Regions from separate parts of the Homo sapiens genome. Here region 2 is linked to region 1. A link means that fine-mapping ties the variant in region 1 to the expression of a gene that starts in the linked region. Tissue or cell type: whole blood. Region 1 holds a variant in brackets; the other region holds the start of a gene. All regions are shown on one strand. Distances are between the middles of the regions.

Region 1 (2,755 bases):
CAATGTATAGACGAGGCTCTAGGAAGGAAGAGGCTTGTTCTGTTTACACAGTGATGATGGCAGATGCAGGAGGAGAACTTAGATCTCCTAATACTCAGGCCTTCAGCGTTGGCCTTTCAACTCAAGCTTTCCATCCTCTGTGGCCTGCTATCCCAGCAGGACCACTGACCACAGCCCCTGAAGGAGCACAGGCCTAGAGGACACACAGCTCTGGAGGCTGGGGAGGGCCACAGAGACAGAGCCCAAGCTGTATCAGAAGCCCAAGCACTGTATTAAAGTGAAAAACCTTGAGAATTCCCACTTTGTAATCCTGGCCATCAACCCCTCATAGCAATTTGGTGACCCTTCAATGAAGAGTTTCATGGATTTTATGCCCTTCTTGGTAAACCTATTCTGGGTTTCAGTTTATCCACACAGACAAAACCTCCAGGATTGCCTACTTTCAGGGTCAATGTCCAAGTACCCCTTTGACATCTAGACAAGATGGCAAAAGCCTGGCACATGAACCACCATCCTCCCTCCAGTGCCCATGGCAGACATTACCAATCAAGAGTCTATTTCCCACTGAGCAAGATAAAGACCTTAGAATCATTAACAGCACAGCCTCCAGCTGTCCAATCATTCAGCATTGGCACTCAAGGTGAGATTTATTTGCCAGCTGTCATCTACACTAATCTAACACAGCCTGGGATCATAGGGAAATCTCTCTTGGCCTCAATTTTTTCACCTCTAAATATGAAGTGATTTTTATGTTCCTGCCAGCTCTGTGATCTTGTGAATTCCTAATGGAACCAGACAATTCTACATTGTGGATAATGGAAGGAAATTCTGTTGGTTTCAAGAGAAATTCTATGCAGTTTTTAATATAATTTTTGGCAGCAAATCTGCCCTTCCTATTCTATTTAAATTAGGTTGGGTCAGAGCATGGTGGGATCCAAGGACATTGGAAGTCTGGCTGAGCATATTGGGTTCCACATCCCCTACGAAGCCAAACACGGCAATCTGATGGTGTTCCTGGCCTCCAAGGTCACCAGTGCCCTCTGGAAGCCATTTCGTGCTTTCAGGAAGGTCCTGAGCCAAGATAATTCTAACCTTTTTCTTTGAGGTGGAACATGACTGTCCCGCCCACCATCTCCCAGCAGGAGAGATCCAGGATTGACATTTCTGCCCCTCACACTGTCCCTACTTGTCCTATCCCATGTTCTGGGAGGGCAGATGTGTTCCTCTCACAGAGCCTAGGCAGCCTTTCTCATCTGCCTGCCAGCAAGCCGGGTGCTCTCCCCACCCAGCCAGGAAGAAGGGGATCCTCAGAGGGAGGGGAGAAGACAGGGCTGCCTGCTTGCCACCAGGCACTGTGAAAGAGAGAACTTTAAATCTTGGCCTCCACCAGGGAACTGCCTTAATTAGGGTGGCGCCAAGCATGATGCTGTAATTAACTGTGTGTCTGTGTTTCCATCCCAAA[C/T]GCCCATTTCCAGAGCTTTGTGATCCAGTCTTCTAAAGAGAAGCTCCAGCCAGAAACTTGGCACCAGCAGCCCCAGAGGGGAAGGATGGCCAGATTTCCCCTACTCTTCCCTCTTACCGCCCCACTCTGGGTGAGTCTCTGGAGGTAGAAGCCATGGGACCCTCCTAAAAGGGTGTTTATGTGTGCTCAGAGCTACTGCCTGAGCTCTGCCTGGTCCCCAAAGCCAGGGAAACCCCAAAGCAAGGTATCAGTATGGACAGTCCCAAGCATTCCCTGGGCAGGGGGCACACCTGTTAGTTTGACTTGAATAACATCCATTTTACATTATTCTAGTAACTTTGATCTTCTTTGGGGAACCAGCCGCATCCATCTGTAGCCCTTGGGAAGGACCCATGACCTAGTCTGGCCAATCAGAGTGTTCATCCCCTGGCCACAGTGATTGGTCCAGTGTGGGTCTGAGCCAATGTGACTCTGTTGCAGAATCTTGAGATGGAACTGTTACGGAATGGTATTTGCTTTTCTTGGTAATTGCCAAGCTGGGAGGATGTCAGTCTGGAGGTGCAGAGGCCATGTTTGCCACCTCATACAGGGAGAGTCTCTCAGTGAGACCAAATTGAAGAAAGCACAGAAAAAAGATGGAGGGTGCCAGAGACAGACCTAATGGCATCCTTTAAGCAGTTGACTCCAGCCATACCTGAAGCAAAATGCTCCCGGAGACTTTTAATTATGTCAGAGGCAATAAATTTCTAATTTTTATGTATGTCAATTTGTTTTATGTGGTTTTGTTTGTTTGTTTTAGAGACAGAATCTCACTCTGTTGCCCAGGCTAGAGTACAGTGATGTCATCATAGCTCACTGCAGCCTCAACCTCCTGAGCTCAAACCACCCTCCTGCCTTAGCCACCAAAGTAGCTAGAACTATAGGTGCATACTACCAAGTCCAGCTAATTTTTTACTGTTTTTTTTTTTGTTTTTTTTGTTTTGTTTTGTTTTGTTTTTTTGGTAGAGATGAGGTCTCGCTATACTAGAATGTACAGGCTGGTCTTTAACTCCTGGCTTCAAGTGATCCTCCTGCCTTGGCCTCCCAAAGTGCTGAGATTACAGGTGTGAGCCACTGCACCCTGCTGTTTATGTCAATTCAAACTGACTGTCTGTCACTTGCAACTTTGATATGGTTTTGCTGTGTCCCCACCCAAATCTCATCTTGAATTTCCACGTGTTGTGGGAAGGACCCCGTGAGGGGTAATTGAATCATGGAGGCAAGTCTTTTCCATGCTATTCTCATGATAGTGAA
Region 2 (2,500 bases), 59 kb before region 1:
CAGCGCTCACGGCGAAGCTGTCACCTGGGACGGGGACGACATGAAGCCCCTGAGTCTGGCTCCAGGTGCCAAAAGTTACCCCCGCGGAGGGAAGAAGGAGGCGCGGTGGGAGGCGAAGGACCACGGCACGGGGGCCAGGAGGGGGTTCGCGGGCTGGGGCAGGAGCCAAGAGAGGGACGCGGGTAAGTAAAGGGGGGTTCAGCGAAGCCCTAGGAGCGAGGAGCCAGAAGGGGGCAAGAGGGGTGAGCAGTACCCCAGGAGGACGGGTTTAGGATCAGACCAGGGAGCACTGGCAGCCAGGACTGCGGAGGAGAGGGCTGGGGGTCAGGAGAGGGGCCGCAGTAGGTGCAGGAGCCAGGATATCGGAAGAAGGGCCGGGGGGCAGGAAGAGGGGGCAGGGTCTTGCGGGGAGGCGCTTGGGGGTCTGAAGAGAGGGTGCCGTGAGAGCCGAGGGCAGGGACGCGGGAGGGGGAGGGGTTGAGGGTCAGCGGTGGGAGCGCAGGACCGCGGGGAGCGGGTAGGAGGGACAGAGGAGGGGGCGCGAAGGCTGCTCAGGGAGCGGGCTTGGGGGGCCGGTGGCCGGAACTGGGGCTTCGGGGTGGCCCTGGTCATAAGACCTGGCGGGCTGGGCCGTTCTGCCGCGGCCGCGGTGTCCCCCGCGTCCATCCCCGAGGTCTGCGCCCCGCGCGCCCCTACCTTCCGGGCTCTCCCTGCGCTTGCACACGGCGGCTGCAGGCACATCGCGAGGCGGCGGCGGCGGCGGCAGCCGCGGCGGCGGGAGAAGGAAAGAAAGGAAGGGAGAGAGTTAGCGACCGCGGCGGCGACGGCGGCGGGGCCCGGGGCGAGCGCGCGGGCGGGGGCACTGACCCGGCTTGGAGTGAAGTTTCCCCATGCTGGGGCTGCGGCGGCCGGGAGCGTCCCTAAGCCATGCGCCCGGCCCGCGGGCCTGGCGCCTCCCTTGGCTCTCCTCCTCCCGAAGCAGCCCCCGAGCCGAGCGGAGCCCGAGGCGGCGCCGGGACGCGCTCCTGCCGCCGTCGCCGCGGCCCGACTGACGCCCGGGAGCGCCGAGCCCCCAGCCCGCCGCCGCGGCCCGCGCCTCCCCGCGCGCCCATTGGCCGGTGCGGCGCATCAAAGGCAAGGCTGGTTGCGGCGGGGGCGGGGCCGGAGGCGGGGCAGGGCGGGGACGAGGGCGGGGCGCTGACGGGAGGGGCGGGACACAGTCCGCGCTCCCTGCCGCGGTCTGGGGCCGGGGGCCGAGCTCCAGGGCTGGCGACCCGGCGGGGCGGCTTGTCCAGGAGGCGTATTGGGACAGAACAGCCCGGCCATCGCTAACTGTACTGTCACTTCCCTCCGCTCCACGTTCTCTCTAAACGGGCAGGGCGGGACTCGGCGGCTCCAATTTACAGGTGGGGAAACTGAGGTCGGGAGCGGAGACCTTAGCTGCTCAGGTGCAAGCTTCGGCAGCGCTGCCTTTTCCCAGTCTTCCCACGACCTACCTTCTGCAGAAAGTGTTCATTACCCGCCCCGTGACCCGCCCCCCACCACCGCACTCCTCTAGTTTCTTATTTGGGGAGTCCAGGAGGAGCCCCCAGCGCACCCCGGGCCAGTGTGAGCCCAGCCCTCTCCAGGCAGCGACAAATGTCCAAAGCGCCCCGTTATCAGCCAGTCTCTGGGATCTCCTCGTCCGGGGGCCCGTGGGTGCCCGCCCGGGTCGGGGCGCGCTGCCAAACTGCGCGGCCCGGAAGGGGGTAACCGCTGAGTCTTTGATCTTCCTTGGTTTCCGCTCCCCGCTGCAGTTCGCCAGACCCAAGGGTTTGTTTGTTTTGTCTGGGGAGGTCTCTGCGGGGAGGTCGCGCGGGGGGAGGGGGATGGTGGCGGTCGACATCAAGGGATTCCACCCCACCTTTGTGGCTCTCAGAACGCCTGCCCCCTTCTGGGGACACTGTGGGTCCGTGTTACGCTCGTCCTGGCACCAGGCAGCTCTGGCGTGGGAAAAGAAAACCCGCAGCTCAGAGTGAGACCAGCCCCGACCTTTGGAGTGAATTACCTGTGCTCAGTTTTGTGATCTGTATAATGGAGGCTCCATTCTGCCCTTTTTGCCGACTCTCTAGAGCAGCACTGCCCAATAGAAATATAATGTGGGCCACATTTGTAATTTTAAATTTTCTTGTCGCCACATCTTTTAGAAGTAAAAAGAAATAGATGAAATATTAATAATATATTTCGCTTAACTCAATACAGTCAGCCCTCCTTATTCACAGGTTCCACATCTGTGGCATCAACCATCTGTGGACTGAAAATATGCAAAAAGAATAATACAGCAAAAATAAAGAATAAAAAACTTTTTAATATAGTATAACAACTATTTACATAACATTTACATTGTATTAGGAATTACAAGGAATCTAGAGATGATTTAAAGTATTCAGAAGGATGTGTGTAGGTTATATGCAAATACTACAGGACATTTTATATAGCGGACTTGACATCTGGGGATTTG

The links. PIP is the estimated chance that this variant, and not a neighbour inherited with it, causes the effect.
Region 2: it holds the start of NKD1, and the variant in region 1 is fine-mapped to the expression of NKD1 in whole blood (TOPMed, PIP 0.92).

What each region holds. Positions count from the first base shown.
Region 1 is chr16:50,487,991-50,490,745 of GRCh38, reverse strand. No RefSeq gene overlaps it. Among named protein-coding and RNA genes, the nearest start is that of NKD1, 59 kb to the left of the region's middle. The variant C/T (reference allele first, on the strand shown) is at 1,463.
Region 2 is chr16:50,546,946-50,549,445 of GRCh38, reverse strand. It overlaps NKD1 (NKD inhibitor of Wnt signaling pathway 1), which reads right to left and starts at 1,050. Exons shown (of 10, transcript NM_033119.5): 1 at 868-1,050; 2 at 697-729; 3 at 1-24. The coding sequence starts at 892. RefSeq lists silencers at 728-917, 958-1,407.